Linked DNA regions of Homo sapiens. The protein of the gene in region 1 interacts with the protein of each later gene in a biochemical or structural test. Each region holds a gene or a part of one and is shown in the gene's direction. Other genes may lie near its edges.

The links. The genes of interacting proteins can lie anywhere in the genome.
Region 2: the proteins of SLC25A3 (region 1) and PTEN form a complex in vitro, tested with the Homo sapiens proteins (2 studies listed by BioGRID).

The regions. Positions count from the first base shown.
Region 1 is NC_000012.12:98,589,601-98,596,694, forward strand, and holds the start of SLC25A3 (solute carrier family 25 member 3 isoform b precursor), read left to right. Parts: upstream 1-4,085; 5' UTR 4,086-4,140; exon of another isoform or gene 4,141-4,374; 5' UTR 4,375-4,378; coding exon 4,379-4,535; intron 4,536-5,832; coding exon of another isoform or gene 5,833-5,957; intron 5,958-6,126; coding exon 6,127-6,248; intron 6,249-7,094. UniProt on the Homo sapiens protein: Inorganic ion transporter that transports phosphate or copper ions across the mitochondrial inner membrane into the matrix compartment. Mediates proton-coupled symport of phosphate ions necessary for mitochondrial oxidative phosphorylation of ADP to ATP.
Region 2 is NC_000010.11:87,957,625-87,964,650, forward strand, and holds part of PTEN (phosphatidylinositol 3,4,5-trisphosphate 3-phosphatase and dual-specificity protein phosphatase PTEN), read left to right. Parts: intron 1-228; coding exon 229-395; intron 396-3,269; coding exon 3,270-3,494; intron 3,495-7,026. UniProt on the Homo sapiens protein: Dual-specificity protein phosphatase, dephosphorylating tyrosine-, serine- and threonine-phosphorylated proteins.

The DNA.
Region 1 (7,094 bases):
ATCTCGGCTCACTGCTACCTCTGCTTCCCAGGCTCAAGTGATCCTCCCTCCTCAGCCTCTTGCGTAGCTGGGACTGCAGGGGCATGCCACTATGCCTGGCTTTTTTTTTTTTTTTTTTTTAAGAGACAGGGTTTCACCATGTTGTCCAGGCTGGTTTTTAACTCCTGGACTCAAGAGATCCACCTACCTCGGCTTCCCAAAGTTCTGGGATTATAGGCGTGAGCCACCATGCCCAGCCAGAACCCCTAAATTCTGTTGAGCCTCCTTGTCAGTCAAAGAAGCCCTTCCTCTCCTGTCTGAGGAGGTTATGTTCCTCGTCCCTGTGAAATCTGTAATGGCCTCACCTGAGGTGGTTGCCTGGCGGGATCTGCTGATTCTTCTTAAAACCTACTGTCCACTTTGGGAGGCCGAGGCAGGTGGATCACCTGAGGTTGGGAGTTCGAGACCAGACTGACCAACATGGAGAAACCCCATCTCTACTAAAAATACAAAATTAGCCGGGCATGGTGGCGCGTGCCTGTAATCCCAGCTACTCCGGAGGCTGAGGCAGGAGAATTGCTTGAACCCGGGAGGCAGATTTGAATCTCCACAGTGGAGAGTTATGGTCCTTCAGGCAATTTCCCTACTTGTGTCAGGTTGGAGGCCGAGAGCCTCTTGAATGTTAAGGAGGCCAACCCCCTTGTCTTAGTCCATACCTGCTGCAATAACATCACCTAAAGACGGATAAAAGGATTTTGTATCCTCTTTTGGGTAGAATTAGCTTGTTCACAATTGTCCAAGGGACAGCTGCTTCATGTTAGGTAGAAGTCTGATTTTGCTCTTTAGTTTTTGTCTGGAAGTTAAATATGATTACAAGAGGTGTTCATTGATGCCATGTTGACAACCGATAGACTCTGGTACTTTTTTTGTTGCTGTTGTTAATTAGTTTTTATTTCATAATCATAAACTTAACTCTGCAATCTAGCTAGGCATGGAAAGGAACAAGGAAAACATAGAACCCAAAGGGAACTGCAGTGAGAGCACAAAGATTCTAGGATACTGCGAGCAAATGGGGTGGAGGGTGCTCTCCTGAGCTACAGAAGGAATGGTCTGGTGGTTAAGATAAAACACAAGTCAAACTTATTAGAGTTGCCCACAGTCAGCAATGGTGATCTTCTTACTGGTCTTGCCATTCCTGGACCCAAAGCACTCCATGGTCTCCACAATATTCATGCCTTCTTTCACCTTGCTGAAGACCACATGCTTGCCATCCAACCACTCAGTCTTGGCAGCACAGATGAAAAACTGGGAACTGTTTGCGTTGGGTCCAGCATTTGCCATGGACAAGATGCCAGAAACTGTATGCTTCCGGATGAAGTTCTTGTCATCAAATTTCTCCCTGTAGATGGACTTGCCACCAGTGCCATCATGGCATGTGAAGTCTCCACCCTGACACATAAACCCTGGAACAATTCTGTGAAAGCAGGAACCCTTATAGCCAAATCCTTTCTCTCCAGTGCTCAGAGCATGAAAGTTTCCTGCTGTCTTTGGAAACTTGTCTGCAAACAGCTCAAAGGAGATGCGGCCCAAGGGCTCCGTGTCAAAGAACACGGTGGGGTTGACCATGGCTGATAGCACAGGGCTCCTGGCAGCAGCGGTGCCTGCAAAGCCCAGTGGTGTTTTTTTTACCATGTCAACTTAGCTAGGCTAGAACCACATTTCCTAGATTCCTTTCCCTGCATAGTTTTGGGTTAGGGCTAGCTATAAGAGAAATGTGTGCAGTTTGGAAGGCAGAAGTGGAGCAACAGTCATTACATTCTGAAGGTCACCAGCTCCCACATGGGGTAGGAGCTGGGCCTGCAGCTCCTTCAGTTACCACTGTATCTTCTAGATCAACTTCTGTGAGTTCTGGGCCACGAGCATGTGCAGCCCCATGGTGAAGGGTACCAGCTGTTCCAGCTGAAAAAATGTGCAGCAAAGGGTCACGGTATTACCCGGTGCTGGGGGAAGGGAATAGGAAGATTCACTACAGTCATATATTTTTACATAATATTTGACTTTTTCATGACAAAGGATTTTTAAATTAGAAAAGCACCATAAAGTTGAATTAACCAAAAAAGAGAGAGAGAAAGTCCAGACCCTTCAGTGACTACCTCTGTCTACATAAGATCAGACTCCTCAGTCTGGTATGTGAGGCCCTGGACAATCAGGTGCTAGTGTACTTTTTTAACTTTATCTGTCACTACTTCCCTTCCTGTGCCCTCCACTCTGGAATTCTTCCTGGGACTGTAGGACTTTAGTTGGGCCAGAAGGGCTGGGTCTGGGATAGGGTTGCTTAGAGAGTGCCGTGATGCCGCAGCCTCAATGCTAACTTTTGTTTTTTTGTTTTTTTTTTTTTTTGAGACGGAGTCTTGCTCTGTCGCCCAGGCTGGAGTGCAGTGGCATGATCTCGGCTCACTGCAAGCTCTGCCTCCTGGGTTCACGCCATTCTCCTGCCTCAGTCTCCTCAGTAGCTGGGACTACAGGCGCCCGCCACCTCGCCCGGCTAATTTTTTGTATTTTTAGTAGAGACGGGGTTTCACCGTGTTAGCCAGGATGGTCTCGATCTCCTGACCCCGTGATCTGCCCGCCTCGGCCTCCCAAAGTGCTGGGATTACAGGCGTGAGCCACCTCGCCCGGCCAATGCTAACTTTTTTTAGGTAACATCTTCTGTAGACTTTTAGACATTATCTCATTGAGTTCTCATAGACTCTGCAAGGTAAGTATTACTCCCATCCAGAACCAGACACCTGATTTGCAGGGTCCAGTGCAAACTAAAAAAAGCGTGGCCCCTTGTTCATACATGTATTAAGAATTTCAAGCCGGGCATGGTGGCTCAGGCCTGTAATCCCAGCACATTGGGAGGCCGAGGTGGGCGGATCACCTGAGCTCAGGAGTTCGAGACCAGACTGGCCAACGTGACGAAACTCTGTCTCTACTAAAAATAGAAAACTTAGCCGGGCGTGGTTGTGCACGCCTGTAGTCCCAGCTACTCCGGGGGCTGAGACAGGAGAATCGCTTGAACCCGGGAGGCGGAGGTTGCGGTGAGCTGAGATCGCCCCACTGCACTCCAGCCTGGGCGACAGAGCAAGACTCCATCTCAAAAGAAAAAAAAAAAAAATCAAAATGACAGCAGAGCATTAAATGAAGTGTAAGGCCATGTGTGACTGTACCAGTGTGAACCTATGAGGCCAGTCCCACCCCTATCTTACATCTAGGGAACAGGTACACAGAGATGAAGTAAATTCCCAAGGTTACTTTGTCAAGAGCTTGGAAAATATAAGAGTCAGAAGTCTAACAGGTTGAATCCCTATTAAACTCTCCCCAACTAAACTACGCCCCTCCCTGTTGAGCTGAATCTAATGAAAGCTTCCTAAATGTATTAACCACACACACGCACAATCTGCTATCAGTCACTTTCAGTAGTTCATCGCTGTAACATCTCAGGAGTTCAATGTTTCAACGTGTTCTGTAGATTACTGTGATAACGCGGCAAGCTGTCGTAAGACTTCTTGCTGCACATTTCTTTTTAAAATATTCTCCAGGAGTCTGATGAAAAATACAGACATACCTATGTTTAATGTCAATGGATGGAACTTATTTTAAAAAGTACTGTAATGGCAGAAGTTGTGACACAAAGTACTGCAGTGATGTTGTAACTCCAACACCTAAATATATTATCAAGCATTCGCGTTTTGTTTTGTTTTTTAAGTGACTACTAGATACTGTGATTCACTTAAGTGAAGCGAACTGAAGCCCGTGGTCAAGGAGAGACACCTGAAGGTGAAGGGACAAAGCGAGCAGGGTAAGAGCTCGAGCCCGACCCCTCTCAAAAAATATAGACCCGGAACGCGCGCCTGCGCAGAACGAATCCTCCCGCGCACAAGCCGGGCGGAAGAGCTGGGGCGGGCAGGGGCGGGAATAAGGTTGCTAGGAGAACGCGATGACGCTACGGGCTCGGCGCTCTTCTCCACCAATGGGCGACGCGTACTTGCAGTGGCGCGCTGTGTGCGTCACGCCGACGACGCGCGAAGGGCACACATCTTAGGACCCGGAGGACGTCCGGCCTCTGTGAGCCGCAACCTTTCCAAGGGAGTGGTTGTGTGATCGCCATCTTAGGGAGTGAGTGTGGCCGGGCCTTCTCCTGTGGCGGGTGTGGGGAGCGGAGCCCAGAGCTCCTGTGGGGCCGCTGCTTTGGCGGTGGGCCCAGCCGGGAGCAGCCTCTTTCGAAGGCCGCCGTGACCTCTTCAAGGGCGTGGAGACGGGAAGGAAAAGGCCCCGGTTGGGGTTCCAGGGCGCCGGTAACGTTAACCGGCGCCTTGCCTGTCCTCTAACCGTCGCTCCCTCCTCCCCTAGAAAGATGTTCTCGTCCGTGGCGCACCTGGCGCGGGCGAACCCCTTCAACACGCCACATCTGCAGCTGGTGCACGATGGTCTCGGGGACCTCCGCAGCAGCTCCCCAGGGCCCACGGGCCAGCCCCGCCGCCCTCGCAACCTGGCAGCCGCCGCCGTGGAAGGTGAGATCAGACCCTGCCCAATACAGTCGTGTGGTCTACTTGTGGGCCGCCCAGCCTTTGAGGCCTGGACCCGGCTTGGAGGACAGGGAAGGACGAGTCCAGCCCGCTGCACCGTAGGACGGCGCCCAGTTGCTTGCCCTGGGGTATCGGCCTTTTCCACCATAGGCGGGTGTCAGATCCTTGGCCTTCCCTCAAGGGCGTGGAAGCGCTGAGGCCCTGTGTCCCTTCGTGACCTCCGTGTGCCCGAGGGAAGAGAGGCCGTGACTAGCTCTTTCTCCGCCGTGAGCTCGCTTGGTCAGCAAACTAAGTACTGGGTAAACTCTCCTCCCGAAACTACTGACCACCCACAGTTCTACTAACTATATTACCTGTCCTTTGATTTGCCCTTAGTTTTCTTAAAAATAGTCCTTTCCTAAGTTTTATATTTGTCGACGCCAGGTCAGTCATTTTTGCACTTAATTGTATATGAGATAACTAGATGTCCTGTTTTCGTGCGACTGGAGGAGGCAGCTTGCAGCCCTACATAGGCAATAGAAAGGAGATAATTGGTGGGCGTCCCTTTGGTGTGATTATCTCTTGGGATTCTTGGTGGTTGGGCCCAGCTTTAACTTAGTTGTGTGTGTTTTAAATCCTAGTGAAGTATGTACATACAGAGAAACCTGAAAACCGAATTGTAGGAGTCCTAAGAATGTTATCTACCTTGTGCCTGTAAAATCGAAAGATTTTTTTCTTTAAATCATTCATGTGCTTCTGTTGTCTTTAGTATGGATAGAGTCCTTATTTACACTATCTGTCGTTCAGTTTAAAAGTTAAAGCTAACATTATTTGTGTATTAAATGTATTTGACTGCAGGAATTTGTGCGTATCCGTTTTTATGTTACAGGAGTTCTTAAGTGGGGATAGTATTGGTTAGTGGCTGGGATAAACTTTGAAGTTGTTTGCAAGCCTTTTACATGTCGAGTGATCTTTCTGAGTTTCGTTTGTACTCTGAAGTGTGCTCTTACCAGTGGTTAATAATTTGAAGTTTGACTTTAATTGTAAAAGCCGTTAATGTAGAAAACTTTTAAAAAAATTAATATGGCAGAATACGAGCTATTAATAGTATCAGATACAGAACCCTCATAATTTTTAAATGATCTGAATTTGGCAGTGAATTTTTTTTTAAGCCACTTAATTGTGGCCAAAGCTATTCAGCTGTGATAATAGTATCTCACAGGGAAACATTTTCTTTCATTCCAGTGGCCTTAGTCATCTCTGAAGAAATACTTACTTGATTTTTTTTTTTCCAATCAAACAGAGCAGTATAGCTGTGACTATGGATCTGGCAGATTCTTTATCCTTTGTGGACTTGGAGGAATTATTAGCTGTGGCACAACACATACAGCATTGGTTCCTCTAGATCTGGTTAAATGCAGAATGCAGGTTTGTTTTGCATGCTGGACTAGAGCATATTGAAGCATGACTGACTGTTAAGTTATAAGATATAGTCATCTAACAAGCTGTGTGGAAACCTAACTGTCCAGGAGGTAAGTTTATGACCAGTAACATGAGTTTTATATTAAAATGCATGGTGTGTCTTCTCTTACTACAGAGTACAGTTGTGAATTTGGCTCCGCGAAGTATTATGCACTGTGTGGCTTTGGTGGGGTCTTAAGTTGTGGTCTGACACACACTGCTGTGGTTCCCCTGGATTTAGTGAAATGCCGTATGCAGGTTTGTATTGAGATGACAACATTGAAAGTATCTCTCATGTGACTTAACTCTAAATAAAATCTTAAATGAGAATTTGAAGACATCACAACTGCTAGAAACTTCAGTAGGAAACCACATAGAATTTCTTTAAATTGTGGGCTTTATTTTGACTAGTGTTTTAAATCCAATAAATGCCTCTATTGTTTGAGTAAATTGTTCACTTTTAGAGTCTGGCTGTAAATGGCTCTTTGCTGCTGCTCTTCACTTCTGGCCGGAGTTCTTCAAGCTTACTAGTGCCCCAAATAGTCATTTAACAAGCACCTATGTGTTGGAGTGGGTAAACAAGTCTGTGTATTATGTGAAGTAACAATGTCCTTTATCTACTAATAAGACCAAGGCAAAGAGTACATGTAGATTTATTTAAAGTGCTCTTAATATCTTAGTATGAAAATTTTGTCAGATTAGCCTCTTGTTTATTTACACAACATTTTAAAATAATTTGAATATATTTTAATTAAGATCATTGAAACAAAAACAAGACATCGAAAATTTATTTGTTCCAAACTGGATTAGAAGTCTACTTACCTAAAAGAGAAATGAATTTGAAATATTAGGAGGGAGAGGAAGGTGATGTATACCATCCCTTCTAGTACTGGCAGAAATAGATAAGCTTTTCCTCCCCCCCCATTAGTTAATGTAATGGATATGAAATGTACCTTTGCTAAAACGTGTTATGCATGTCTCTTGAAGTGAATTTAGTTTATGTGCTTTTTTTTTTTAACTTGTGTTTAGTTTGTTTAGTGTTCACAAAACTTTATGCTATAAGCTACTTAAAGAACTAGCATATGTTAGGAATACAGTTATATC
Region 2 (7,026 bases), on another chromosome or scaffold:
TTATATAAGTAATAGGACCTTATTTTGAAGGTTCAAACTGGAGAAAATCTTACATTGTTTATATTTTTATTTCATTTATTTCAGTTGATTTGCTTGAGATCAAGATTGCAGATACAGAATCCATATTTCGTGTATATTGCTGATATTAATCATTAAAATCGTTTTTGACAGTTTGACAGTTAAAGGCATTTCCTGTGAAATAATACTGGTATGTATTTAACCATGCAGATCCTCAGTTTGTGGTCTGCCAGCTAAAGGTGAAGATATATTCCTCCAATTCAGGACCCACACGACGGGAAGACAAGTTCATGTACTTTGAGTTCCCTCAGCCGTTACCTGTGTGTGGTGATATCAAAGTAGAGTTCTTCCACAAACAGAACAAGATGCTAAAAAAGGTTTGTACTTTACTTTCATTGGGAGAAATATCCAAAATAAGGACAGATTAAAAGCTATATTTTATTTTATGACATGTAAGGAACTATAATTTGTTTTCTATTAGATCTGCAGGTGTTTTGCTTACTCTGGCATTGGTGAGACATTATAAGGGTAAATAATCCTGTTTGAAGGAAAAGGCCTTATGGCATTGTAACATGAGAGGAATTTTTCTTAACAAGGATGGTTAACTGAGAAGAAATTAGCATGGGACCAATATTTTAAAAATTTTGGTCTATAGGTAGAAATGAGATCTGTTCTGTGGTCTTATGTAGTGACACAAACCACTTTTTCTCCATTTTGGCTTATGTTTCTTTTTCTTTCCTTTTTTTTTTTTTTCCTTTTTGTTAGAGACAGGGTCTTGTTCTATTGCCCAGGCTGAGTAGCTAAGACTACAAGCATGTGCCACCACACCCAGCTAATTTTTTTTATTTTTATTTTTGTAGGGACAGGGTCTCACTATGTTGCCCAGGCTGGTCTCAAACTCCTGGGCACAAGCAGTCCTCACGCTTTGGCATCCCAAAGAGTTGGAATTACAGGTGTGCGCCATCATGCCTGGCCTTAACGTTTCTTAAGACTTGATTATTTTCTATTTAGCTTCTGTGGATTTACTGATTAATTTTTTAACTAGGAGAGAAATCAGTATGAAGAGGAAGTAATAAAGAATGAAAACATGGTATTTAAATGTGCAGGTTTAGAAAGTTAATGAAGTTTGAATTTGATTGATCTGTATTTAGAGAAGGCAACGTCTTATTATTTTAAAACCAACTATCCGCCCTGTGCGGTGGCTCACGCCTGTAATTCCAGCACTTTGGGAGGCTGAGGTGGGCAGATCAGCTGAGGTCAGGAGTTCGAGACCAGCCTGGCCAACATGGTTAAACCCCATCTCTACTAAAAATACAAAAAAATTAGCCGGGTGTGGTGGCAGGCGCCTGTTTTCCCAGCTACTCAGGAGGCTTGAGGCAGGATAATTGCTGAACCCGAGAGGCGGAGGTTGCAGTAAGCCAAGAATGCACCATTGTACTCCAGCCTGGGCAACAAGAGTGAAACTCCATCTCAAAAAAAAAGAAAAAAAAAACAACAACTATCTTCATTTAAAATATTAAATGTGAATATTTAAAGTGAGACTAAGGTGCAACATTTTTAGATAGTAATGAAGAAAAGGACTAACTTTGTAGTGTTGCTGCCTTGTTAAACATACTAGATAGCATATTGCCAATCTTTAAACATTCTCAATGATAGGATTTATTTACTTTTTCTGATTTTTAGCTTTTCTTTTGAAAGAAAATAAGAGGAAGTTTCATTTACTGCAAAATTTTAAATGCTGCTTTGATGTATCAGTAGAGATATAATTTTCCTTTATCCAGAATCCAAGTAGCTGGAAAAAAAAATCAAAATATGCTGAACTTTTTTTTTTTTAGCCAGAAACCCATTTCCTATCGTCTGTACAAATAAAAGTTAAATATATCTCAATAACTTAGAAAAATTATTTTTTGATAATCCAGGAAGTATTAGCAACTGTTTTAAAATTAAGATAACTAGTAAGTTTTATTTAGCTTTCAAAAATAGGCATCTACATCATCATCTCTGCATACCTTTAGGAATTTCCTAATTCTTATTTCCCTTCATCTGTACTTTAACACATGCAAAATTGAAGGTTAGATTAAATATTTATGATTTATTTGTTTATCCTTGACTACATAAATTTCCATTTTATTGATTTTCCCTGCCTTATTTAAGAATATGCTATGATTAAAACACAAAAAATTTTAGTATAACCCATATATATATAGAATTCACCTTTTTGTTATTTAAATATTATTGGCTTATTTTCTTCTAAGTAAAATACAATTACTGGCTAAAATAATTGAAATAAGCAAAAAAAAAATTTTAAAGACCTTGTATACAAGATTACTTTGCCAGGTACTGTTAAAAGATGCAATGACATTTAAGACGTAACATCCTTAAGGATCTTATTTTCTGGGGGATAAAAAACTTTAAGATAAATTAGAATAAAAGATTTAAATGGCATTTTAAGGTACCAGGTACCAGATAAGATGTCACAAGGCTGTATATCATTAATTGCCAAATGATTTATACAGGCCAGATTTCTTTGTTGGTCAATAGAGGTTTAAAGTGATGAACTTCTGTTGTGTTTTTTTATTAAGAAGGTATTATCTTATTAGTAAGAAGTGATTTTTTTTAAGAACAAGCATTTTATAACATCAAAAGAAATCAGTAGTACTCTTTCCTACCCCCTCATATTTATTCTGAAAGTATTCAAGCATTATATTGTCATGTAAGAAACTGGAGCTTCTCATGTTTGTATTGCTGTAGAAGTAAACATGTATTTGCCATGCGTCATCAGGGAAGTTGCACTCACCGTCCAAGAACTTTTGTTAAAGTAAATCTTGGAATAGGTAGCTCATTTGAAATGTAGAAAAAATTAAATCCATATCTGAATTTTGTTTATATGTATGTACACGTAAACTAAAAACGTATTTAAAGCTAGTATTAGATGAGAAAAGAGGTTTTTTTACTTAAAATTTTAAGGCAAAAGTAGTTTATCTTAGATCTTGTGAGATTGTATTTTTGGTTTAAAATTTGAGAATTTGAGTGAAGAAAAATCATGTGAATGAAAATGCAACAGATAACTCAGATTGCCTTATAATAGTCTTTGTGTTTACCTTTATTCAGAATATCAAATGATAGTTTATTTTGTTGACTTTTTGCAAATGTTTAACATAGGTGACAGATTTTCTTTTTTAAAAAAATAAAACATCATTAATTAAATATGTCATTTCATTTCTTTTTCTTTTCTTTTTTTTTTTTTTTAGGACAAAATGTTTCACTTTTGGGTAAATACATTCTTCATACCAGGACCAGAGGAAACCTCAGAAAAAGTAGAAAATGGAAGTCTATGTGATCAAGAAATCGATAGCATTTGCAGTATAGAGCGTGCAGATAATGACAAGGAATATCTAGTACTTACTTTAACAAAAAATGATCTTGACAAAGCAAATAAAGACAAAGCCAACCGATACTTTTCTCCAAATTTTAAGGTCAGTTAAATTAAACATTTTGTGGGGGTTGTTGACTTGTATGTATGTGATGTGTGTTTAATTCTAGGAGTACAGCTGATGAAGAACTTGCTTGACAAGTTTTTAACTTATGTATTATTTCGAAGCAGTGTTTACGTAGCAGTAACATGAAAGTTTCTAATAAAATACCCAATGTACACAGCGTCAAAAAAGCTGCATTTTTCCTTTTCCTAATTCTTCGTTGTTTGCTGAAATCTGGGGCAAAGGTGCGGGAGGGGGCTAAATGACTGGGATATGAAGTAGGAATGGGAGAGGAAAGAAATAGATGGGAACTCAGTCATTTGGGAATGATTCATATGGAATGTTTTTACTGCTTCCACTCCTGTCTGCCTTCCAATTTATTCTCAATCCCTCAGAGTGATCTTAAAAATAGACTTGATTGTGTCACTTCTGTTTACACTTTATAAGGACCTTGTGTTTTTTTTTTTACCATGACCTACAAGGCCCAGCATAATTTAGCACAGGGCTACCTCCTACATCAGCACTAGTCACCTTCTCTCCTTGTTTCTTGAGATTCAGTCATACTGGTCTTTCTTCAGTTCTTCAAAATGCTAAGCTTCTGCCTCTTCTAGTCTTTCCAGTTATTTTCCTTCTCCCTGTACCTTTTCATCTCAGCCTTTTCCCCTGACCTTCCATAGCTATCTTCATATTTCCAGCCTTAGCTTCAATCTCATATTCTCTGAAGTCCTTTGATTGTCCTCCCGTTATTCTTTTTTTAAAAATCCTATTTCCTTATATTGTATCTTAGAATTATTTGGTTTGTTTCATTTTTGCCTATGTGTGATATATGTATTTCTACATAGGTATATATATCTACTTATAGACAAGAATTCTTCAGATTAAAAAAATCTGATTTGTAAACATTCCCAAGTGGTTGTTTACCATTTTTTTCTTCCCCCTTCCTATTTCTTATTCTACCTGATTTTCCCCTGTTCATTCACCACACTCGTTTCTTTCTCTTTTTTACTCTCTCTTAATTTTTCATTCAATTTTTATAACATGTAATAAATCTAACTGTAGCGTCTGAGTATTAAGAATATTGCTAGTAATACTTCACCTGTAATCCCAGCACTTTGGGAGGCTAAGGCAGGCGGATCACTTGAGGCCCAGGAGTTTAAGACCAGCCGGCCAATATGGCGAAACCCTATCTGCACTACAAATACAAAAATTAGCTGGGCATGGTGTCGCACACCTGTAATCCCAGCTACTTGGGAGGCTGAGGCACAAGAATTGCTTGAGCCTGTGAGATGGAGGTTGCAGTGAGCCGAGATCACACCAGTGCACGTGCACTTCAGCCTGGGCAACAGAGCAAGACTCTGTCTTAAAAAAAAAAAAAAAAAAAAAATATATACACACACACACACACACACACACACACACACACACTATTACTACCAATATACATACATATATGTATGTATGTATGTATGTATATTGGTAGTAATAGTAATACTTGGGCCCCTGCACGTTTTAAGTGAAAATAGATCTAATATTAAATGTCTTTAGCCCTTAAATTTTTTTTAAGTGTTCAGAAGTTTCCCTTTAAAAAAATTTTTAATATATAATAATTGTACATATTTATGGGATACAGAGTGATATTTTCATGTATGCAGTGTGTGATGATCAAATCAGGATAATTAGCATATGGATCACCTCAAACATTTGTCATTTCTTTGTGTTAGGAACATTCAAAATTCTGTCTTCTAGCTATTTGAAAATATACAGTAAATTATTGTTGACTAGTTACAGTTCTATAGAACACTATAATTTATTCCTCCTGTGTGTAATTTTTTATCTTTTAACCAACATCTCCCTATCCTCCCCTCCCACTCCCTTTCCCGGCCTCTAATAACCACACTCTTATGAGCTCAACTTTTTTAGCTTCCATATATGAGTGAGAACATACGGTATTTATCTTTCTGTACCTGACTTATTTTACTTAACATCATGTCCTCCGGGCTAGACATTCTCTTTAGAATCCACAGGTTTCCTTTCTTTTCTCTAAATCTGCATTTTGCTCAGCCATTAACTTTTAAAATGTCTTTTTCCCTTTAGTTTTATTGTTTTCTATTTTAATATTGCAAGATGTTTTATATTTGTGATTACAAATAAAAACTCCATTATTAGTAAACAAATACAATGTCATATAGTAGTAAGTGCTATAAAAAATAGACAGGATAGAAAGTAATCTTGGTTTGTATGTTTTTTGTTTTTTAGCAAAGATGATTAGAGAAGGCCCAACCAAGCAGATAACATTTAAGCAGAGGCCTAAATCATATAAGTGAGTTATACAAATATCTGGGAAAAGAGTTAAGAGTACAGATGCAAAAGCCCTTAGACAAGAGAATGAGCTTGGTATATCTGAAGAGTGGATAAGTCATTTTGACTGAAACAGAGTGGACAAGAAAACCAGTCCAAGTGTAAAGACACTAGTGTGTGTTCAGCATAGGAAGGATGTAATCTGAATTTTGTGTTTAATATTCCCTGTGTTCATGCTTTCAAAATACAGATGAGTGAGGAAAGTAGGGAGAAGGGGTAATAAAGGAAGCTGAGAGATCAGTTAAGAGGTACTTGAATAGTTTAGTAAAGATGAGAGAAGATGTTTGCTTCTTGTTGCCCCTCACTGCTTAGAATAGTGGCAGTGAAGGGTAACAAGAAGCTGTCAGATTAACTTAAAGAGTTTACTGATGCAGTGGATGTTGGTTGTAAGAGAAGAATTGATAATGACTCTTGGATAATAGGGGAGGGAGGGGCTGTCAATATAATATAATGAAGAAGGGATTTGAAGTCATTTCTGATTTAAATCTCACATCCACTACCTACTTTTAATAGATATGTAGCCTTTAACAAGTTCCCTAACCTTTCTGGGCCTTAGCTACCTCCCCTTGGAAATGGAAATACCTAACATGTAAGGTTGTTTTGACAGTTATTTTCACTAGGCATGTAAAGGCACTTGACTCTCTGTTATAGACCACTGTATTATGTTAATGTCCCTCTCCTTCCTCCCTTTAGGTAAAGTTTTTAGGGCTAATAAATCCCAAATATCAATGTTGATCAGTAGTTTGTGTTTGTGTAGTGTTGTTTATATCAAAAACTACATTGAAGCCGGGCACAGTGGTTCACGCCTAAAATCGCAACACTTTGGGAGGCCAAGGTGGGCCTCCCACCTTGAACTAAGGAGTTTGAGACCAGCCTGGGCAACATGGTGAAATCCCATCTCTACAAAAAATATAAAAGCTAGCTGGGTGTGGTGGCATGCACCTGTAGTCCTAGCTACTTGGGAGGCTGAGGTTGATCCTGGGAGTTTGAGCCTGCAGTGAGCTGTGAAGATGCCACTGCACTCTAGTCTGGGTGACAGAGCAAGACCCTGTCTCAAAAACACACACACACACACACACACACACAAAGAAATACATTGATTTTTCACATAGGTAGTAAGAGAAACATTCTTTTTGAACTCAGCTGTTTGTGAATTGAATTTTGTAATTCAAAT